Homo sapiens: one gene and its partners. The protein of the gene in region 6 interacts with the protein of the main gene of each other region in a pairwise test. Each region holds a gene or a part of one and is shown on either strand. Other genes may lie near its edges.

The links.
Region 1: the proteins of TRIM37 (region 6) and UBASH3A interact in binary tests that used the Homo sapiens proteins (3 or more experiments, as listed by UniProt).
Region 2: the proteins of TRIM37 (region 6) and COPB1 interact in binary tests that used the Homo sapiens proteins (3 or more experiments, as listed by UniProt).
Region 3: the proteins of TRIM37 (region 6) and RIBC2 interact in a two-hybrid assay, tested with the Homo sapiens proteins (one large-scale study listed by BioGRID and IntAct).
Region 4: the proteins of TRIM37 (region 6) and CWF19L2 interact in binary tests that used the Homo sapiens proteins (3 or more experiments, as listed by UniProt).
Region 5: the proteins of TRIM37 (region 6) and KIAA0408 interact in a two-hybrid assay, tested with the Homo sapiens proteins (one large-scale study listed by BioGRID and IntAct).
Region 7: the proteins of TRIM37 (region 6) and RXRB interact in binary tests that used the Homo sapiens proteins (3 or more experiments, as listed by UniProt).

The regions. Positions count from the first base shown.
Region 1 is NC_000021.9:42,427,902-42,431,401, reverse strand, and holds part of UBASH3A (ubiquitin-associated and SH3 domain-containing protein A), read right to left. Parts: intron 1-3,500. UniProt on the Homo sapiens protein: Interferes with CBL-mediated down-regulation and degradation of receptor-type tyrosine kinases. Promotes accumulation of activated target receptors, such as T-cell receptors, EGFR and PDGFRB, on the cell surface.
Region 2 is NC_000011.10:14,475,812-14,479,311, forward strand, and holds part of COPB1 (coatomer subunit beta), read right to left. Parts: intron 1,205-3,500; coding exon 1,108-1,204; intron 135-1,107; coding exon 1-134. UniProt on the Homo sapiens protein: The coatomer is a cytosolic protein complex that binds to dilysine motifs and reversibly associates with Golgi non-clathrin-coated vesicles, which further mediate biosynthetic protein transport from the ER, via the Golgi up to the trans Golgi network.
Region 3 is NC_000022.11:45,412,545-45,416,492, forward strand, and holds the start of RIBC2 (RIB43A-like with coiled-coils protein 2), read left to right. Parts: upstream 1-1,148; 5' UTR 1,149-1,342; coding exon 1,343-1,471; intron 1,472-1,533; exon of another isoform or gene 1,534-1,682; intron 1,683-1,777; coding exon 1,778-1,859; intron 1,860-3,948. Other genes in the region: SMC1B (structural maintenance of chromosomes protein 1B), read right to left, coding at 915-1,023. UniProt on the Homo sapiens protein: Microtubule inner protein (MIP) part of the dynein-decorated doublet microtubules (DMTs) in cilia axoneme, which is required for motile cilia beating.
Region 4 is NC_000011.10:107,325,860-107,328,825, forward strand, and holds the end of CWF19L2 (CWF19-like protein 2), read right to left. Parts: intron 1,195-2,966; coding exon 1,051-1,194; 3' UTR 501-1,050; downstream 1-500.
Region 5 is NC_000006.12:127,452,890-127,456,389, forward strand, and holds part of KIAA0408 (uncharacterized protein KIAA0408), read right to left. Parts: intron 1,213-3,500; 5' UTR 1,093-1,212; coding exon 958-1,092; intron 1-957.
Region 6 is NC_000017.11:59,096,881-59,100,380, forward strand, and holds part of TRIM37 (E3 ubiquitin-protein ligase TRIM37), read right to left. Parts: intron 1-3,500. UniProt on the Homo sapiens protein: E3 ubiquitin-protein ligase required to prevent centriole reduplication. Probably acts by ubiquitinating positive regulators of centriole reduplication.
Region 7 is NC_000006.12:33,195,377-33,197,665, reverse strand, and holds part of RXRB (retinoic acid receptor RXR-beta), read left to right. Parts: intron 1-1,059; coding exon 1,060-1,232; intron 1,233-1,629; coding exon 1,630-1,759; intron 1,760-1,963; coding exon 1,964-2,096; intron 2,097-2,199; coding exon of another isoform or gene 2,200-2,211; coding exon 2,212-2,289. UniProt on the Homo sapiens protein: Receptor for retinoic acid. Retinoic acid receptors bind as heterodimers to their target response elements in response to their ligands, all-trans or 9-cis retinoic acid, and regulate gene expression in various biological processes.

The DNA of each region.
Region 1 (3,500 bases), on a different chromosome or scaffold from region 6:
CAGCCGCAGGATGGCCTTGGAGCCTTGCAGTTACAGGGCTCACGCCCGCCCTCTTTCTGGGGAGCCTGTGCTTTGGGGAAGTAGCCCAAAGGTCATGCTTGGGGCAGCGAGGCTGGCTACCCTTTGGGAGGGGCCTCCACTGTGTGGGATGGTGTTGTGGGGGGCTCTGTCCTCAGGGGCTAGGCCACCCTTCTCCCCATGCTGTGCAGGGCTGATCAAGTTGAGGGACTGGCCTTGAGAGGAACCCACAGCAAATGAGATGAAGAGAGTGAATGAGAGCTGAGGATGCCCCCCCTGGGACCAGAGAGCAGAGTGCTAGGGGCCGAGCCAGCTAGAGGCCACCAGGACAGCTGCGTGGAGCATAAGCCCTGCACCAGGACCCTGGAGGGAGACACCAGGCTCGGCTGCTTCCCTGGAGGGCACTAATGTGCCAGCTGACATCGGCCCTTCACCTACATTCCCAGCCCCAGAGCCAGGCCCAGGCTATCCAGGGGGGTCCATTTCAGAGCAAGAGGTGGGGAACCCTGCAGCAACACAGGCCCAGTGGTGCTGCCCTCTGGCACCCAGGACTCATGCCTCAACCTCCCTGTGACATGGCACCGCAGGGGGGAGCATGTCACATGCTGGTCCATGAAGCTGCAGTCCACAGCATCCCTGCTTTAGGGAGCTGCAGGTCTCCCTGGGCCAAGGGATGAACATGGAAAGATGAGTCATTAACAGAGATGGTGGGGGCAGAGCGAACACGGCCTGCCACGGGAGGTGGGCTGTGGGGCCTTCTGGGGACCAAATCCTGCCTGGAGCCCAGGCGACCAGGGATGGACGGGGTAGGGAGGACCCCTGGGCAGGAGGCAGCTCAGACAGGCACTATCCCTGCCCTGCTCCCTCTTGGCCACACAGCTCTCTCTGGGCTAAAATGAGAGGGCAGCTCTTGTGTGTGTTTTCCTACTGAGCAGGGTAAGGAAGAGAGGTGAGGAGAGGTAAGCCTTGTCTGCATAAACCCTCATACACCAGCCCCAGCATCGCCCTGATTCCCTCCAAATCCTAGAGAGGAAAATGCAAATGGCTTTAACATCCAAACACCCTCAGGGAGGAAGGGACTCATTTTCCACCTGGCCAGTGCAGCTGATCATTCCTGTCTGGACTTTCTTCTGTGAACAGTGATCCAGTCTCAAGGGTCTGCACTAACTGGCCACTCGCTCTGGCAAGAGTGGTCCCCCGTGGTGTCCCTGTACCTAGGGAAGTGATTGGAAACTACTGGGAAGGAAGGGACACCAGAAAGTAGGGTGGGGGCCAATTTCACCTGCCTTGAAAGCATTCTCGGGGTCAGCACCACGGGCAGCTCCTGCCAGATCCTGTGGATCCCTTGTGAAGTCCACGCTGGCCCGGACGATGCAGAATTTCCAGCTGCTGAAATTTATCAGGACCAGACAGTTCTCGGTGGCCCTGGCTACATTTGGTAGGTGCATAAACTATGGGATTGGTGAGCCAGTGAGAACGTTTGCAGTCACCATGCAAACACTTTCTTAGGGTCACTGGGCTGAGTCTTCAAAACGGATATACGGTAAGGCCAAGTGAATAGTATTGCTTTCCCTTATTGGAAAACTTCAGTTGTTTGTTTCAGGATAGAAACATGCATCTCCTGGGGAACAGCTTCAGGGGAAGGTTTGTCTTGCTGTCTTGCTCTCTTGCATGTGAAGTGTGGTTATGCAGAGGTTGCCTACACTGACACCAAGAGGCAGCACCCACCGCCCCTATCCCAGAATGAATATTAAAACATCCTAGAGAGCTGTAGAGAGCTGATCTGCAAGTAGATTGCAAAGCATGCATGCTCTTGGAAACTCATTCTGCCTAGTAACAAAGTCCCTGAAGTTTTCAACTTGCGGGCTGAAGTTTTGGATTTGGGGTATTTTCTTCCTGGAAGAGCTCAGAGCATTTTAAATGTTCTTCTGTGGAGCTTTGCCACAGGAATATGATGATAAAGCAAAAGAAAGCCCTGTGGGGAGTGGAATGGACTGACCCCTGGGATCTATGGAATGAGGCAGGGCTGCACCAATTCTCTAGACAGAAGGTGCTGCATTGGTGTCCTGGGGCTGCCATAACAGGCTGGGCGGTGCCAAGCAAGAGACATTTATTCTCTCACAGCTCTGGAGGCTGGAAGTCCAAAGTCAAGGTGTTGGCAGGGCCATGCTCCCTCTGACATTCTAGGGGAGAATTTATTCTTTGCTTCTTCCAGCTCCTGGTGGCCCCAGGTGTTCCTTGGCTTGTGGCCACATTGCTCCAGTCTCTGCCTCTCTGGCTGCATGGCCTCCTCTGCTGCTGTATCAGATCCCCTCTGCTTTTCTCTCATCAGCACACTTGTGATGGGGTTTAGGGCCCTCCTGGATGACCCAGGATCATTTCCTCATTTCAAGACCCTCCACTCAATCCCATCTGCAGAAACTCTCTTTCCTAATAAGGTCACATGCACAAGTTCCCGGGATTAGGGCATCATCTCTGGGGCCATGATTCTACCAGACCTGTGGCCAGTTGTCTTTTCTTACTGTAGGGAAGGGGTGAAATCCCTATAGAGAAGACCGTGTGAGGGGGGCCAGTTCACAGGCAGATGCATGTTCTGTTTTCAGCCATTGAAAGCACGGTTTAGACACAGGCTGAGCTACGAGCAGAGACTTCCATTCCAGGCTCTCCCCCTACCCAATACCTGGGTACTTCTCCACAGTACCCAGGTATTGGGTCAAATGTTATTTTAGATGTCACTGTGAAGGTATTTTTTAAAAATGAGATTAACATTTAAGTCACTAGGCTGAGTAAAACAGAATGGTCTCTGTTTTACTCCAGATGATAGGGTTGTTGGAATCCATGGTACTAGCTCAATCTTTTTAAATAGCTGAAAGTCCTTATTAAAAACATTTAAAGCTTTTTAAATAATCCCCAGGCCACAGCCCTGGGGAGTCTCGGCTCTCCCAAGTCTGGGCCTTTCTCACATGGTGAACGCTGATCGCCATTTCTCATGGACCCAGCTTCAGAGACACATTCTTGATTTCTCAAGAAAAGGCCTCCTCACCTAGCCACCAAGGCTGCAAAGACCTGCCAAGGCCACTTAGCTTTGGGCTGATTTGCACCAGCTGCCAGGAGGTGCAAATGGCGACAGGGACGCTGCGTGTGGGTTGACTGTTTAGCTTCCACAGCAGAAGTTTACTCTCCCACAGTCCTGGAGGCTGGAGGTCAGAGATGATGGTGTTGCCAGGGCTGGTTCCTTTTGAGGCCTCTCTCTGGGGCTTGCCGGTGGTGTCCCCTCCCTGTGTCCTCACAGGGCCATCCCTCTTGTGTGTCTGTTTCCTCATCCCCTCTTCTTATAAGGGCAGCAGTCAGATTGGATCAGATTGCATCACCTGTGTTGCCTCATTTAACCTTAAATACCTCTTTAAAGGCCTTGTCTACAAATACAATCACATTCAGTGAGACTGGGGGTTAGGACTTCGAGATAGGAATTTTGGAGGCAC
Region 2 (3,500 bases), on a different chromosome or scaffold from region 6:
GAACTGCTAAGGGCACTCTGAGTTGCATAGGTACCCATTTCAGTAACCAATTTCTGAACTGGCCCTACAGTTATTTCTTCTTCAGGTTTTAATTCACCAGCTTCTTTCTTTATTTCTGACTCTACAATTGGGATCTAAAAGTCAATTGGAAACATCATTTTAGTAATAGTATCAACAGCAAGCAAAATTATCTTTAAATATTTGATTGTTTCTCTAAAAAAGGCATTACCCTAATGGGATTTTTGGAACTGGGAACTCTGCTTTCAATTTATTTCCTTCCCAGGATAATGTAGTAGGTAGAATAGGGGCTTCAGAGATGGATATTCCAGGGTTTGAATTCTCACTCTGCCACTTACTACTTTGGACCTCAGTTTCTTAATCTGCTAAGTGGAAATCTTAATTCTTTCTACACATTTTACCTAATAGAAAAATGCATTGGACAGTGTCTAACACAAAGCAGATGGTCATTAAGTCGTATTCCTCTTCTTCATTCCTTTCCTTGAAATTTTAACCAAAACAGTACTCATCCTTCTAAAATGAAATAAATCCGACTTATTTGTACATAATAACCTCATCAACTAACTTTTAAATTAACTGAATGGCTATTATGTATTTATTACTCAATACCAGTCCATTACCTAATATAAGAGCACTAAGAGTATTTAATCATTACCTATTTTAATTTATTTTATAGGTGAAAAACACTGATGTCAAGTTAGGTTGAGGAACTTATATTCAAGGTCCTCCAGCTAACTGTCGACACAACAATGACTAGAACTAATTGTCAGGTCTCCTGATAATTAGTCCACTGTTCTTTCTATTCTACCATAAGGTTGTTAGGATGAAGAATACTGTCAGTTTTACTGCATAAATATTCTGAAGTCAGACTTACTCTAAGGCATTCTTCCTTCAGAATACAGGCTAAAGCAGAATTTTACAAGCTACTGCTTCTTTTTTTTTTTTTTTTTTTTAATAAACACAGAACATTTTGTTCAAACAAAATCTAACTCAGAAGTGTAAATAATGTAAGCAAATCACTATAAAAAGTCAGATTTTCCTAAAGGAAAAATTACCATATAAACTAACATTTACTAAAGTAAAACATACCTCTCCAAGGGACCTGCGGATCTCAGTCATCACACTCTGAATGTCTTCCTTGGTACTACAGTATTCTCCCAGGATCCATAATGCTCCTCGGTAAATCCTAGCACAATACAAGATCTGAAACATGAACTTGGCAGACAAATCTTGAAGCAGAGATCTTTCTTTGTTAATTTAAGCTCAAATAAAAACAAGGGCCAGGCACTCACGCCTGTAATCCCAGCACTTTGGGAGGCCGAGGCGGGCGGATCACGAGGTCAGGAGATCGAGACCATCCTGGCTAACATGGTGAAATCACGTCTCTACTAAAAATACAAAAAAATTAGCCGGGCATGGTGGCGGGCGCCTGTAGTCCCAGCTACCCGGGAGGCTGAGGCAGGAGAATGGCGGGAACCCATTCTCGGGAAGCGGAGCTTGCAGTGAGCCAAGATCGCGCCACTGCACTCCAGGCTGGGTGACAGAGCGAGACTCCGTCTCAAAAAAAAAAAAAAAACAAGGGCCAGGCACGGTGGCTCACGCCTGTAATCCTAGCACATTCGGAGGCTGAGGCCAGCGGATCACTTGAGCCCAGGAGCTCAAAACCAGCCTGGGCAACATGGTGAAACCCCATCTCTACTAAAAATACAAAAATCAGCCAGGCATGGTGATGCACATCTGTAATCCCAGCTATTGAGGAAACTGAGGCATAAGAGCTCCTTGAGGCCGGGCACAGTGGCTCACGCCTGTAATCCCAGCACTTTGAGAGGCTGAGGCGGGCGGATCACCTGAGGTTGGGAGTTCAAGACCAGCCTCACAAACATGGTGAAACCTCGTCTCTACTGAAAATACAAAAAAAATTTGCTGGATGCAGTGGCACGCACCTGTAGTCCAGATACTTGGGAGGCTGAGGCTGGAGAATCGCTTGAACATGAGAGGCGGCGGTTGCAGTGAGCCGAGATCGCGCCACTGCACTCTAGCCTGTGAGACAGAGCAAGACTCCATCTCAAAAAAAAAAAAAAAAAAAGAACTGCCTGAATCCAGGAGGCGGAGGTTGCAATGCCCTGAGATAGCGCCACTGCACTCCAGCCTGGGTGACAGAGCAAGCTTCTGTCTCAATAACAAAAAAACAAAAAACAAAAACCAACAAGATTCTGCAGTTCTAAAGTATTTTAGATAAATATTTCAGAAAGAATCTAACAAAACCTAGGTTTCAGTTCTCTCCAGAAATCACAAAGATTAAAAGTAAAATAACTGTTCTTATTATTAGGAACATTCTAAAACTGGTAAACCTAGCAGTAAAAATAAAATACCAAAATGTTTCCCAGTAAAGTGTCCATTTAGGACACAGTGAAGGCAAATTTGGCTTAATCTCTTACTACTCTAAGAAATGTATTATTTTATGGCCAGACACTGTGGCTCACACCTGTAATCTCAGCATCTGGGGAGGATGAGGTGGGAGGATTGCTTTAGTCCAGGAGTTCGAGACCAGCCTGGGCAACAAAGCAAGGCCCTCATCTCTCTTAAAAAAATAAATAAATAAAGTAAAAACAAAACAAAAACAAAAACAAAAAATCAGGAATGTATTATTTTAATGTAAAAAGTAATTCACTTTTTATTTTCAGTCACTGAAGAGGCAAGGTGTTGAACTGAACAATGGATACAGAAGAAGTACAAGGGATCAGTAAAAAAATAATAGTAAAGAAAGCAACCATTCATTCATTCATTTAGATTAAAAAAATAAATAGAGACAAAGTCTCACCATGTTGCCCAGGCTGGTCTCCAACTCCTGACATCCAGCAATTCTCCTGCCTTGGCCTCCCAAAGTGCTGGGAATACAAGTGTGAGCCACCATACCCAGCCAACAATTCTTTAGTTTAAAATGTTAAACTGAATAAAGTCCTTAGTCATCTTTCCCCTAAGATTTTAATTAAATTTATTCAGAAAAACTTAATTATAGAAACCAAAGCTCTAAGAGATTATGGCTGTCAAAAACAAATTCTTAATGTCATAGCTCTTTTAAAATTTGTTTAGCAGGCTTTCTGGTTTTTGCCGGAAAGCCCTCTCACAAAAAAAAAAAAAAAAAAAAAAAAAGCAAATCCTTAATATGATTTTCTTCTCACAAAGGAAGCAAATCCTGCTCTGCTCACTTCCATAAATATTAATATATTTTCATATCATAAAAACAATTTTGTACTTGTCCCTTCCTTCCTGAGACATATTTCAAGTCTGTTAGAGACTATCCATCAGATGCTTTAAATGAAGCAAAATTTAGATGCAACAGTCCTTTCTCATTAGCAAAGGCTCTCTGAAGGGAAAGACAGATTTAGGTTGCATTTTCAATCTTTCTCTTCATTAAATGTGAAAGGAAGATATAAATAATAGTAATAGCCAAAAAGTGATGCCATTTAAAAATATGCTCT
Region 3 (3,948 bases), on a different chromosome or scaffold from region 6:
TTGCCAGGCTGGAGTGCAATGGCGTGTCCTTGGCTCACTGCAACTTCCACCTCCCAGGTTCAAGCGATTCTCCCGCCTCAGCCTCCAGAGTAGTTGGGATTACAGGCGTGTGCCACCACACCCAGCTAATTTTGGTATTATTAGTAGAGACCTCCGCAGGTCCTCTGGCCTCTCCAGACCTCAGTTTCCCCAACTATAAAATGGGGAGAGCAGCCATGCGCCATGGCTAACCAAAGACGGTGTCGCCAGGAACTTAGGAAAAGCTCAGTAAACTGGGTCATCATCACTACATTCCTGGGTCAAAGCTCCCTTGGATCCAAATGGTGGTTCTGGCTGCTTGGAACCCATTACCTCCTCGACAGCTCCCTCTCACTTCAACTTCGGATGAGAAGGGAAAAGGGACGCGAGTGACCAGGGCCAAGGGCAAGAGCAGTCCCCGAAGCAGGAGTGAGGGCAGAGAACAGGGCCCAGGGCGGGACCGGGGCGGAGAGGAAGCGTCAGGACCCCCAGGGTGGGGGGCGAGGGTTGGGAGCCCCTGAGATGAAGGGCGAGGGCCGGAGCTGAGGTGGGGTGGGGTCCCTCAGGGTGTCGGAGGAGGGTCGGGAGCCAGGAGGTGGAGGGCGAGAGCGGGGCCCGAGGCGGGGCCGAGTGGAAGGGTCAGGACCTCCGAGGTGGGGCGGAGGGACAAGGGTCGGGACCCCTGAGGTGGACGGCGAGGACCGGGGCTGAGGTGGGGTGATGGGCAGGGGCTGGGCCAGGGCCAGGCCGGGATCCGGTCGCGGTCAGGCTCCGGGACTGGAAGGGGAAGGCCGGCCAGGCGCCCGCGGCAGACGCCCACACCCCACAGGCCACGTGTGGCCTGGACGCCTGGGACGGCGGAGGCGCTCCGGTGGCGCCCTGAGCTGCTCAGTTACCAGAGCCGTTGGGGCCGATGATGCAGGTGAACCTCCGGAAGGGGCCAATGACCTGGCGGCCCCGCCACGACTTGAAATTTTCCACAAGCAGCAGCTCCAGGTGGGCCATGGCGCCGCCCTCCACGCCTCACCCGCGTTATCAAGCGCCCGCGGAAAAAGCGCGGGAAGGGATTCGCCAAGTGTCGCGAGAAGAGAGCGAGACGCGGCAAGCGCGGAGCCGTTCCTTAGCAACGAGTTGTTGACATTTCCGAGAGAGCGGGAGCGTCTGTACCTCTGCGGCGTCACTGGGAGCCCGACGGAAAACTGCGCTAAAGGCTTGTCTTTCCCCTGCCCGACCGAAGGAGCCGACCTTGCCTGCGCTACAGCTTCCTTATTTTCGTCGCCTGTTCTCCTGATCCTGCGTGTTCTAAAAACCCCTTAGGCTTTCCATGGGTTCCCAGACCATGGCGGTGGCGCTGCCCAGGGACTTGCGGCAGGACGCCAACCTGGCAAAGAGGAGGCACGCGGAGCTGTGCAGGCAGAAGCGGGTCTTCAACGCCAGAAACAGGATAATTGGGGTGAAAGGGCAGGGGCCGGGACGGGGTTAGAGCGGCAGATGCGGGCGAGGGGCTGCGTGGAGGGGGAAAGGAGATGAGTTCTAGGATGAAACATCTGAGCCAGGAGGCAGCAAACGGCCTCCTGCAGGGCCAATAATGCTCCCTCTCGAGCTCGCCTGGAGTCACCAACGGTTCTCCTCCCCTGAGCCAGATTTTCTACAACTCGTTTACAGTGGGGCAGAGATTAAAAATAATAATAAGTAGGATTGTTATTACTGAATAAAATGATCTGGCTCTAACCCTTCTCCTCTGTTTTTCCATTTATAGGGAGACACTGAAGCCTGGGATGTTCAAGTTCATGACCAGAAGATAAAAGAAGCTACTGAAAAAGCTAGACATGAAACCTTTGGTGAGCATTTCCTGAATGCTTATCTATTGGTTTAGGATTGTGTGGCTTTAGACTCCAGTCTTCCCCACCGTCCCCCTGCCCCGCCTTTTTTTTTTTATTTTTTATTTTTTTTATTTAATAGAGATAGGGTCTCACTATGTTGCCCAGGCTGGTCTGGAACTCCTGCGTGCAAGTGATCCTCCCACGTCAGTCTCCCAAAGTGCTGGAACTACAGGCATGAGCCACGGTACCCAGCCCTCCTTTCTTCACATATATAAAAAGTTGTCATTTTCACACTCTTCTTCCTTTTAAATTTCACAATTTCTTGTGCCCAGTTAACTTAATGCACTGATTCTTCTCTTAAAAACAGCTATTGAATTCGAATGTGGATTATAAGAAATAGATTTTAAGGGTATATGTATGTTTTCCTTCATTTTCTTAAAAAACTGGATAGGAAAAGCCTTAAACACAGAAAGACACACACACACACTCACTTGCTCTGCTCAAAAGTTTAAGACCGTCTATGAAGGACAGCTGTTTATACCAGACAACACATATGTCCGGGCTCACACCCTCAAGCTGACTCAGAGACAGACATGATTCAAATCATAGTATTCAAGTACCTTGAATACTGTTATTCAAGGTATTATTATTCCACTTCAAATACAACTTATTTTCCCCTATCGTGTCCAACAATTTCAACAATTGTTGAAATTTCACACTTTGAGAGGCTAAAACTAGAGGATCACTTGAGACCAGGAGCTCCAGACTTGCCTGGGCAACAAAGCGAGACCCCATCTCTACAAAAAATAAATTGAAAAAAAAAAAAAAAAGAAATTTCAGTGTTTTTAAACACCATAAAGATTTTTATAATAGAAAAAAAAGCAGGATACAAAATTGTACATACAATGGGCTGTTATGTTTTTAAAATATTTTAAAATATGCTCAGAAGAAGAAGAGAGGAAATATGCCAAAATGTTAGCAGGGTAATGTTGGAGGGATAGAATTATGAGTAAACTTTATTTTCTCCTTTATACTGTTCTGTATGTTCTAAACATTTTATCTTTTTTATTAATATTTTTAGTTATGAGGTAATTCAATCTTACAAAAACAATGTGACAGGTACATATGTACCCACCATCAGACTAGATGTTAACATTTTGCCAGATTGGCTTCAGATATCTTCAGTGTTTTTTGAGAATTGTGTTTTTTATATATGTGTATATATATATATATATATATAACAACACTGCCCTGCCCCCTACCTCTTAATTTTCCCCTCCTTTCTCCTCAGAAGTGTTTATCATTCCCATGCTTTTTTTTCTATTTTCTTTTGAGATGGAGTCTTGCTCTGTCTTCCAGGCTGGAGAGCTGTGGCGCGATCTCAGCTCACCGCAACCTCCGCCTCCTGGGTTCAAGCAATTCTCCTGTCTCAGCTTCCCGAGTAGCTGGGATTACAGGTGCACACCACCATGCTGGGCTGATTTTTGTATTTTTAGTAGAGACGAGGTTTCACCATGTTGGCCAGGCTGGTCTCGAACTCCTGACCTCAGGTGATCTTCCCGCCTCTGCCTCCCAAAGTGTTGGGATTACAGGCATGAGCCACCAGGCCCAGCCCCCACGCACTATTTATGCTTGTACTATTTATGTATGTATTCATAACAATATAAAATTGTTTTTATGTGTTTTTAAAATTTATGTAAATGGTATCCTATTGAATAGATCCATTTGCAGTATGCTTTTCTTTCATCCAGGCTTGTATTTTTGAAATTAATCAGTGATTTACATATAGAGAGTATTCATTTTAATTGTTTTATGGCATTTTGTTATATGAATTAACTACAGTTTCTTCATCCATTCCCATACTGATGGCTGGTTTAGATTTTTTTTTTTCAGTTGTTTTGTCATTGTGGACACTGCTGCAATGACTGTCCAAGAATTGTGTCCCTAGCACATGTGAAAGGGATAACTAGAAGTGGAATTGATGGATCAAAGGTAGTTTTATGGGATATTGAAAAATTGTTTCGTTGTAAGTGTACCAAGTTACACTCCTACAAGCAGCAAATGAGAGGTTTTTGTTTTGTTTTGTTTTGTTTTTGAGATGGAGTCT
Region 4 (2,966 bases), on a different chromosome or scaffold from region 6:
AAGTAGGAGCACTCAAAACATAAAAACCCTATACTTACAAAATATGACTATGGTGTGAGTTGAGAACAAATAAAAATTACGTTCCTTGGATCAAGTAAGGGACAACAGAATGTCCCATACTCTCATCCAGGCATGGTGGCTCATACCTGCAATCCCAGCACTTTGGGAAGCTGAAACAGGAGGATAGCTTGAGACTAGGAGTTCAAGGCTACAGTGAACTATGATTGGGCCACTGCACTCCAGCCTGGGTGACAAAGCCAGACTCTGTCTTAATAAATAAAAACAAAACAAAAAGATAAATAAATAAAAACTCTCATTACTTAAGATTTTACGACAATCAGTACAACTCAAAACCAATGATTTGGCTATAAATTTTAACTTTCATGCAAACCCCAAACAACCCTAAAATATGTTATTTGGAAGAATTACTTTTAGAACCACCAAAATTCAAAGATACTATTTAAAAATCCAGAAATAAAAACAAATTTGAATCATACAAATTTTCAGTATCATTTAATTCTTTAATACTTTGGGGACATTTCCTTTTCCTTTAACAAAAAGAATAGAAGTGATACTATATACTGCTAGTAGAAAATTAAGAGCTTTTCTATAAAATCCTATGAAATTAAAATTAAATCGTCTTATTTTTAAAAATGCAAAAGAAGCCAGACAGTAGACTTAACAACCATGAAGCAGACCCACTTCCCTCTGAACCAAGGATTTCCTATGCTTTTTAGATATCCCTTCAGAAAAGGCCTTCTCTAAATTAACTGAACAATTCGGAATACCAAGAAGTAGGTAGAGAGCAGGAATGTGAGCAGATCATCGAATATATGTTTTTACTCCATGGTGACTAAAATGAAGTCCATAGATAGGAGCAGGTGAAGAAGAAAACAACACAATCTCCTGATGTACAGTTGTCACTGACCCAGAGCAGTCTGCTGCTGTGACTCTCTCTGCCTGTGACCTGAGGGTCAGTTGCTTCATTAGATGCAATGGAAATAAAACTGAACGGGATCTGAAGAAAAATTTTAAAATGGAAGGTACACCTCAATAGTTTTTACTTTTGGTGAAGTCATATGGTTTCCACCACTGAGCAAACTGCAGTGCTTTTTTCCTCTGATCCTCAAAGCTTTCTCGGATGCCTTTCCTCCAAAGTCTTGGTTCTATATCCAGCATCCCACCTATGATTTCCTTTTAAAGAAAGAGAAAAGCACAAACACAAGCATGTATAAATAATGAAAACAGAAATGAAACTATTTCTGTTTATTCTGCTATAAAATATAACAAGTTCTTCTCCATGACAATGTTCAAGCATAAATACTAGTTGAAGTTAAAAAAATATGTTTTCAGTTAATTCTAACTAGGCAAACCGTGTGATTCTAAGAGTCCAAGTTAGCTGCATCTCCTATCAAGCAATTTGTCCATTTTGTTGCTTATTAGCACATCTACTAGATGGTAACAAAGGGGAGGGAAAACAAGTGAAATTTAATTAATATGATCTCTATTAGAGGCTCCCGTAAACAATTTTGCAAAAATGTTAATCAACTTCTAGCAATTATTAACTTTACTGCTCAACTGCAGTTGAATCCCAAGCTAATGTTCTCTCTCTGCTACCAAGTATATTTATAAATTAGTTTCTTCCACTATTAGCAGAAATCTTTTTTCATGAAACAAAATCCTATTGTAATACTAGTTTAAGTAAACCTATTGATAGAATTAAAAATTATATATCACTTTCATTTAAAAAATCACATTCTCAAGTCCCATAATAAATGGCTTTTTGGTTATCTGATTATTATTCTTGATTTCCTTCATGATCCTCTTCCTGTGCTGTTAGCTATAGAAATAAATCAAATTTAGGCATGTGAGTATCCATGAACAGAAAGACATGGGGGAGCCTCCTAATGCTTAAATGCTTAGAGGGAGGGCAGTATGGTAACAAAGCAAAAAACAAAAAACAAAACAACAACAACAAAAAACAGACTAAGGATCAAATTCTGCATAGTCGGTCTAGCTCCACCAGACTGTGTGGTGAGATCCTGCACAAACCACATAATCTTTCAGATGCAGGTTCTTCATCTTACTTAGGGACCTACTATGCAGAAGCAAATGCCGTATGTTGTAGGGGATACAGAGATTGTGGGGTGAAGACACACAGTTGTCTTCAGACAGAATAGAATCTGGAGCTGTGGTGGGAGGAATAATAATCCAGCTATGCAGCAGACTGTCTCATAAAGTAGAAGGTAAGTGTCAAAGCAGACCATTTGTGGAGACTCAAAAAAAAAAAAAAAAAAACAATCTATTTGTTGGCCAGACCAGGAGATGCTTCATGGAAAAGGGAATCTCCTGTCATCAGGGAAGGGAAATAAAGGGGTCAACAGAGATAGTAGAAAAGAGAAATAGGGCAAATTGAGATTTAGTTCAAGAGTTTCTCAGCATCGGTCCAAATAAGCAATGTAGTTTAAGAAAGCCTAGCTTATAAAAGTTTACCTAAAATTGTCTATAAAATACCAAGTTTTGTCTTACATCTACCATATAAGCTTGACTCTTGTTCTGTTATCAAAGCAGCTGTTAATGGAAAGACTATCCCCATAATCTCTTCTTGCTCTCTGAACAACTGCTTCAGCAGCAGACTGCAGGGAGGTCTTGAGCCCACAGGCTATTTCTTAAAAAGCAAATTTTGAGGAAAATGGCTCAGTGACGCAATGCTGACAGAGAAAATTTACTTTTAACTCCAAAACTGAATCATATAAACCAGAATGCATGAATAATATGTGAAGAAAGGGCAATCTCCCAGTTTAATATATACAACTTTTTAAAAATGGATATTTTACTTCCTTTTTTCTAGGACCAAATTTTTGTTTTGTTTTGTTTTTCTGTTTTTGTTTTTAATAAATCCAGCCATAGAGCTTTTGGTTATAAAGCTCTACTGTATAACAACAGGATTTTTCAGAACAGTGAAA
Region 5 (3,500 bases), on a different chromosome or scaffold from region 6:
GCCTGCCTTCTCAGCTCTATTTTAGAGGAAGGGCTTAATAGTTACTTTTCTTCAGCTTTCTTCCTACTATGCCAATTCATATTTTATTCACAGTCAATTACATGGCTGTTAATAAGAAACATGACTGTACTATAAACACATAAAGCACTTACTTTGCCTGCAAAAAAGGCCAAGAAGTCTTAAAATAACAACTTTGGTAATGTGCATAAAACCATATAAAGTCAATACTAAGGATGTTACCAAAAGAAAGCAAGATAAGCATAAATTATTTCCAATTGGTGCAAAAGCTTGAATATACATCAATGCAAATGCTTGAAGGAAATATTTCAGGGTCAACGGACTGAGGGAGGGTTAACGGGAACAAAATGACTGTGTCAGAGTCGTGATATGTCATTTTTCATAACTCCTTTTCCAATAAATATGCCACTAAATGTGCACACCTTGATAGAATAAATCTCATGTCTACTGCCATTTTCTGTTTGATATATGATACTCCTTTTGATTATACTGCATTATCTAACATGTAATTTCCTTTAATAGACATTACTCATAAATCTTCTTAGGAAAGATCTATGTTCTAATGCCCAACTATAATTTTGCTAATCTATGTCCCACCAAGTATATCTTTCTTGCATTTTACTCCTGGACCTGGTATTTGAAAATTCATGCAAAATACATACCTCACTTTTGATAAAAAAGCTCTCTAGCCAGAAAATAATAAGTTGAAACATTATAGAGTGACATTTCAAATGCTTAATTTTCATGCAATGATATAAAATAATCCTTACAATACCATTGGATAAGATTATGCTATTTTTGTTCTAGTAAATGTCACTGAGAAATGTACCTCTTAGGTCGAATAAGGAAATCAAAAACAGTTTCCAATACAAAACAGCCCACAGAATTTTCATCCTGCACTTAAACATTACAGTATATCCAAAACAAATTAAAGTGTACCTCTTCTATTTTCTTCTGCATAATCTTCCATTGACTTTCCCATTCCTTTCTTTCATTGTCAAACTGGTCCAGTAATTCCATCTTTTCCTTATGCCAGTTAGTCTCTGTGTTCTCCCACTGCTTATGTAGGTCCATGGCAACAGTGTAAGTGTCAGCAAAGAAGTGTTTCTGCTCTTCTCTGCCTCCTCTTAACTGTTTCTTGGAAGCTTGAAGTTGTTTTATTTGAAGCAGTCTCACTTGCCTTTAAAATAAAGCCTAATATAAACATAACAAGAGAGAGTTCCAAATCCATGTGCTTTCTGGAAATATATTTTATCATTTTGTCGAGCCATTGACATAAACAAACTATAGGAAAATTGGACTCAAAAGAAAAGAGATGACAACAGTCTACTTAAGAAGAAGAAACTAACACAGTCAATAAAGTAATAAGTATTGTCCAAAGTTTTTTTCCCTTTCTGAGACCAGACAGCAAAATTATAGTGGACAAGATGATTAAATGCGCATGTGAGATGTAATCATCCCTTTAACCACTTACTCTAAAAATAGATTTTTTCATGAATAAGAGTGTAAGTATACAATTCAAATGTATGCTCACATCTACACACTGTGACAGATTCTGCTGCAATAAAATTATTCTTTCTGTTCTGATGCAACCTGATTATATATTCTTATGACTTAAATTCCTGAAACAGAGCTGGTTTGCAGTCTTAATTCTATATTCAGAGATCAAGCCTGTGCCAAATGTCATTACTGTGTTACTTATGAAGACCCCAAAGTTGGTAGTCAACTTAGGACTGATGTATCATCCAGAAACTAATCTAAATTATAAAAAATATATTCATTATGTCACTTCATCAAGGAAAATCTAGAAGCATCAAAACTATCCTGTGAAATATACGTTAAAATTTATCCATGCTCTCTTTTCCTTTGAATAGGCTATATACCATAAACTGCTTAGGATATTGAATACAGGGAACTGAAGAAAACATTTTGCTCAGTTTTCAGGGAATCCTCTATTACATTAAGTAGTGACTGAAATAATTAACTTTCTAGCCTTCAGGGACGTGTACTTAAGGTTTGAAGTCAGAATTTAAAATACCAGCTATGTAACTGGTATAAGTCTAAAATTTCTGGGATTTAGTTTTTTGCATTAAAATGGGGATAGTCATAGAACTGTTAAAAAGATTAAATGGCATACTGAATGCAAAGTAGTTTGAGAAATTTAAGAAAGTTTTCTATTTTTTGCTTTACAAAATTTCATTGTGACTTCAATTAAAAATAATTTTGTATTAAATAAGTCATGTGCCTTTTTAGGGGGTAGAAAAGCATGTTTAAAATGTTTGAATCTCTGTTTAAGATAATTATGCCTATAAGATGTCTAACTCTTCAGTCACTAAGCCATTATCAAAATGCTATAACTTACTGGTGGCAGCTAATGCTAATTACGGACAAAGATCCCAACAGTCAATAGCTTTGTGGGTGCTGGCACTGCCGAATTAAGGCCACATACCCAAGCAGCAAGTGCCAATTTTGTATTCACAGAAGATAACTGCATATTTCAAATCCTAAATATCAGCTAAATATCGAACACTAATTTTATTTTTGTCAGACTGTTGTGAACATACATATCTGACTAGTAAACAGTTTTGAATCTGTATTTTTTGAGTCACGATCAATGAATTAGAATAGAATAAGAAATGAAAAATGTTAGCTATATATGCAGGGTTCTACCTTCAAAACACCCTAATAATTTTGGGATCTATATTGTTACTTTACTCTCAAACTATTTACTAAAGATATTTTGATAATTTTTTCCTATGTCTTTGGCACTAGCACTATTATGATTAATTCAGTCACGAAAAATACATAATTTCATATCTGGCTATTAAAGGTGCTATCATATCTCATTTTATCCATTTGGCCATGCTCAATTTCTGACCTCATTTCTCCACCTCCTCTGTCACCCCTTTCTTTGCTATCTTTCCCACATATAAACCAGTAACCACAAGTACTTGCCATAATAAATGTCAGTGAAGAACAAATAAAATAAAGATGGTAAAGAACATACAGAGTTTTGGTTTTTGTTTGTTTTGGCTAATCTAATTTCCATTGATCTTGATCTTGAATACCTAGTAATCTTTTAGGTTCGTCTAACAATTCTTCATAGGAAATGCAGACAGTGCCTGTCTTGAAACTAGCAGACTGCTTTAAAACTATACGTAATTAACTGTGTGGTGAAACTACCTTGCTGACTAGAAAGTATTTGCCACTGGAACTTCTTAGGAAGAATGGTGTGGTTTGAGATAATAAGAGATAAATGCAGATTTAACCAAAGAAACTAAAAAAGGATGCAGACTAATTTCAAGCTACCTGGAAAAGAGGAGCTATGATAAATCCATGTTTTATCCCAACTGTCTTTAAACATTGGAAATGTTCAGAAATCACCATAAAGTCTTTTCTACAATTATGTAGCAAATGGCTCCAATTTTTCCTTCTATTCCTAACTCTTCTTGAATCGCTTCCATGCTACTGTTGAAAGATGC
Region 6 (3,500 bases):
AAAATCCCAATAAAACTAATTCAACAGACTATTTAAAAAATTATACACTGTGGCCAAGTGGGATTTATTCCTAGAATAGAAAGATGATTCAACTACAAAAATCATTCAATGTAATAAACCACTTCATGGAAAACCCCCACTATGATCATCTCAATTGATGCAGAAAAGGCATCTGACAAAATCCAATATCCTTTCATGATAAAAATACTCAATAGAAATAGAAGGGAACTTCCTCAACTTGATAAAGGCCATATATAAAAACTCATAAAAATCATAGTCAACGATTCAAAGGCTAAAAACTCTTCCCCTTAAGATCAGGAAAAATTCCCCTTAAGATCAGGAAAAAGACAAGGATGCCAGCTTTTACCATTTCTATTTGACATAATACAGGTACTAAAAATTCCAGCCAGAGTACTTAGGCAAGATAAAGAAATAAAAAGTATCCTAATTAAAAAAGAAGTGAAATTATCTTTTTGCAGATGACATGATCTTATCTGTAAAAATCCCTAAAGAGTCCACAAAATATTGTTAAAGCTAATAAACACAACAGTTACAGGAGACAAACACACAAAAAACACTGGCATTTCTATAAGCTTGCAATGAACAATCTAAAAACGAAATTAAGAAAATAACACATTTGCAACAGCATCAAAAGGAATAAAATGCTTAGGGAAAAAAAAAACCAAGAATTTGAAAGACATACATGGAGGCTGAGTGTGGTGGCTCACACCTATAATCCCAGCATTGGGAGGCCAAGACAAGAGGGTCTCTTGAACCCAGGAAGTTGAGGCTGCAGTGAGCCATGATCGCATCACTGCACTCCAGCCTGGGTGACAGTGAGATCCTGTCTCAAAACAATAAAAAACAAAAAGAAAGACTTATACGTGCAAAACTACAATACACTGCTCAAAGAAGTTAAAGAAGTCCTAAATAAATGGAAAGACACCCATGTTCAAGGATCATAAGATTTAATATTGTTAAGACAGCAATATTACTCAAAGGCATGTACAGAATCAATGTAATCCCTACTAAAACTCCAATGGTACTTTTTATATTGGTAGAAAACTGCATTTAAAATTCACATGGAATCTCAAGGGATGCCAAATAGTCAAAACTATCTTGAAAAAGTTGGAGGACTCACACTTCCTAATTTCAAAACTTACTACAAAGCTACAGTAATCAAAACAGTGTGGTACTACCATAAGAACAGAAATAGAGACTAATAGAACAGAATAGAGAGGTAGAAATAAACAAAAATATTTTATGATTCCATTTATATGATGTACTTAGAATAGTCAATGTAAAGACAGAAGGTAGAATAGTGGTTAACAGGGGCTAGGGGGAAGAGAATAATGAGAATTTATTGTTTATCAAGTACAGAGTTTCAGTTTGGGATGATGAAAAAGTACTAAAGGTGGATAGTGGTGATGGCTGCACAACAATGTGAATGTACTTAATGCCGCTAAACAGTACACTTAAAAATACAGTTAAAATTGCAAATTTGGCTGGGCCAAGTGGCTCACATCTGTAATCCTAGCACTTGGGAGGCCAAGGCAGGCAGATCACTTGAGCCCAGGAGTTTGAGGCCAGCTTTGGCAACAAAGTAAAACCCTGTCTCTACAAAAAATAAAAAAATTAGCCAGGCACGATGGCACACACTTGTGGTCCCAGCTACTCAAGAGTGTGAAGCAGGCCAACTGCTTGAGCCCAAGAGATTGAGGCTGCAGTGAGCCATGATTGTGTCACTGTGCTCCAACGTGGGCAACAGAGTGAGACACTGTCTCATTTAAAAAAAAAAAAAAAAAAAGGCTAATTTTACATTAGGTATATTTTACCACAATTAAAAAAAAATTAACAGAATACCATATGACCCAGCAATTTCACTTCTAGATATATATTCAAAAGAAATGAAAGCAGGAACTCAAACAGATAATTGTTAACAACAGAACTATTAACAATATCCAATATCCAAAAAGTGAAAACAACCCAAGTGTCCATCAAGAGATAAAAATGGATAAATAGGCTAGGCGCGGTGGCTCAACGCCTGTAATCCCAGCACTTTGGGAGGCCAAGGAGGGTGGATCACCAGGTCAAGAGATCGACACCATCCTGGCCAACATGGTGAAACCCCATCTCTACTAAAAATACAAAAATTAGCTGGGTGTACTGGCGCACACCTGTAGTCCCAGCTACTCGGGAGGCTGAGGCAGCAGACTCGCTTGAACCTCGGAGGTGGAGGGTGTGGTGAGCCGAGATCGCACGATTGCACTCCAGCCTGGCGACAGAGCGAGGCTCTGTCTCAAAAAACAAAAAAACTTAAGAAAAAGGATAAACAAAAAGTGGTATATAGCCATGTGTCACATAAAGATGTTTCGGTAAATGATGGACCGCATATACTACAGTAGTCTCGTAAGATTAGAATGGAGCTGCCCTACATAGGTGTACCATTTTTTATCTTTTATACTGTATTTTTAATATACCTTTTCTATGTTTACTTATGTTTATTTTCTTTTTTCTTTTTTTTTAATGGGTACAGACTTTCTGTTTGGGGTGATGAAAGATTTTGGAAATAGTGATATGGTTGTATAACATTATGAATGTAATTAAAGACACCGAACTGTACCCTTAAATATGGGTAAAATGGAAAATTTTGTTATATTTATTTTAGCACAAAATGGGGGGCACTGAACAGACCCCTTACCAAAGACAACATATGGATGGTAAATAACTCCTGGAAAAGATGCTAACATCATTACTCAACAGAGAAACGCTAACTAAAACAAGGAGATACCTGTAAGAATGGCTACACGTCCCTGAGAATGGCTAAAATTCACAAAACCGAACACACCAACTGTTAGCATTAATGTGGAGGAATTGGAACTCTCATAAACTTCTGGTGAGAATGTAAAATTATAAAACTATTTCCTTTTTTTTCTTTTTGAGACAGAGTTTCGCTCTTGTTGCCCAGGCTGGAGTGCAATGGTGCGATCTCGGCTCACCACAACCTCCGCCTTCTGGATTCAAGTGATTCTCCTGCCTCAGGCTCCCAAGGAGCTGGGATTACAGACATGTACCACCAGGCCTGGCTAATTTTGTATTTTTGGTAGAGACAGAGTTCTCCATGTTGGTCAAGCTGGTCTCGAACTCCCGAATTCAGGTGATCCATCCACTTCGGCCTCCCAATCCTTTTTTTAATTTAACCTTCATCCCTCTCCTCCTCTCCCTCTTTTGAAGTCCCCAGTGTCTAGCATTTCCCCCTTTATGTCCATGTATGCTCATTGTTTAGCTCCCAGATACAAGTATTTTAGAAAATAGCTTGGCAATTTTCAAAATGTTAAACACACATCTACCACATAATCTCTATCCGTTCCATTACTAATTATTTACCCAAGAGAAAAGAAAGCTTCTTGTACACGAATGTTCGCAGCAATTTTCACTGTAATAGCAAAAACTGTAAACATGCCATATGCCCATCAACAGGTGAATGCATAAACAAATTG
Region 7 (2,289 bases), on a different chromosome or scaffold from region 6:
CTCCTCTAGAGGGCGATATTTGATTTCTCTCTCCCTTCGCAGCTCTCCTCCCTGTTACCCTGTTCTGGCCCTTGAGTTTCCTTCTTAATGGTTAGGCCTCTGTGGCCTGCACATATGACCCCTCCCTAGACTGATCCTAGGATAGGATAACTTTTCCTTAGCCATGATGGGCTGTCTCCCCATTTCTAACCTGAGTGGTTCCTCCTCTGATTCCATGGACCTTCTCTGGTCTCTGTCTCCTGTTATCTGTGATCTTTCCTCTAACTCCTGGGACTGGGCACTCTTAAGCTTACAGACTTTACTGAAGACCTCAGGGCTTCCCTTCCTTCTTCTGTGTCTCCATCTTATCTTCTTAAGTCAGATTCCTAGGATTCTGAGAGACACTTTAGAGCATATCTTGGTCAAAACACCCACTTTAGAGAAGATGAGCCTGAGGCTTGGCTTTCCCAAGGTCATGCAACAAAGGAGTGGCAGGCAGGTTTGGGATCAGAACCCACATCTTCAAAGACCTAGGCCAGTGCTCCTTTCACTGCCTATTTGTTGAGTCAGAAGAGCACAAGATTTGCACTCAGACACACTTAGAGTCAGTTGTATGACCTGCCATGTATTATATGAATTTAAGCAAACTAATCTCTTTGAACCCCGAGTTCTTCATCTTAAAAATGAGAATAAATGCTTCCAGCATCATTATGATAATTGAGTGAATGGTAAAATGTGCTTAGCATGTTTCTTGGCATATTTTATTTAAAAAAATTTTTTTTTTCAATCAGCTTTCTCAGGTTGAATCTTGGCATGTTTTTTTTAACCATGTAGTAGGCTCTCCATTTAAATTCCTCCCTAATTCTTTTACCTACCTCACCCTTCCCGACTGACTTACCTGCCCTTTTATAACCCTTCCTTCAGGGCTGCCCCCAGTCCACCCTTTCTAGTGACTTCCCCAATTCCTATAAATATCTCCCAAGGGCCATGAGATCCTGATGAGGCCGTAAGGATATTTGTGGAACCCCTTCATGGCTGGCTGCTGACTTTCCATTTTTTCTCTCCCCCTTCCCCCTGCAGCGGTACAGGAGGAGCGTCAGCGGGGAAAGGACAAGGATGGGGATGGGGAGGGGGCTGGGGGAGCCCCCGAGGAGATGCCTGTGGACAGGATCCTGGAGGCAGAGCTTGCTGTGGAACAGAAGAGTGACCAGGGCGTTGAGGGTCCTGGGGGAACCGGGGGTAGCGGCAGCAGCGTGAGTGTTGGGGTCAATCCACTCTCCTTCGTGATGGGGGTTGGGGGAGGCAGTCTAGGTCTGTTCTACATCCCCTCCCCCTCCTTTCCCCTCATAACCTTCCTAACACTACTTGGGACTGGAGGTGCTGCCAAACAAGGTCTTTCAAACATCTGAGGTGGATGTGATAGCTCCTTCTGTCTCCACTCCCCAAACAACCCACTGGCAGAACCATAGGCATGTCCCAAATAAATAATTGTTTGCACTAATGCCAGAAGAGAAGACTCACTTACAGGGATTGGTTTGGATGGGGCTCACAGGAAGACTATATGTAAGGAGGGGGTGTCAAAAGCCTCTTACAAGGGGGCTCCCAGCATATCTCAAAATCTTCCATAACTCTTACCCCCGTCCCCTGCAGCCAAATGACCCTGTGACTAACATCTGTCAGGCAGCTGACAAACAGCTATTCACGCTTGTTGAGTGGGCGAAGAGGATCCCACACTTTTCCTCCTTGCCTCTGGATGATCAGGTCATATTGCTGCGGGCAGGTCAGTGACCTTGGATCCCTTTGACTTCTTGACATTTGACCCCTCTTTGACTTCCCGATCTTTAGTGACCCCAGTGGCCTTACCTTGCGTACCCAGGGAGCCAAACTTGCTGACCTCGCCACCTCTTTTCTCCTTCTCTTCCACTGATGTGCTTTGAATCCCTTGGCCTGATTTCTGGCTCCTGACCCTTGCTGCCCCACCCAGGCTGGAATGAACTCCTCATTGCCTCCTTCTCACACCGATCCATTGATGTTCGAGATGGCATCCTCCTTGCCACAGGTCTTCACGTGCACCGCAACTCAGCCCATTCAGCAGGAGTAGGAGCCATCTTTGATCGGTCAGTGGCCCTCGGCTAGGCTGGCATGTAGATAGAGGGGGTGGGGCTATAGGCTGGTCCGTGTCCAAGGCTGGCTGAGCTGTGACCTTTGAGTGACCTGCAGGTCCCTCTCCAGGGTGCTGACAGAGCTAGTGTCCAAAATGCGTGACATGAGGATGGACAAGACAGAGCTTGGCTGCCTGAGGGCAATCAT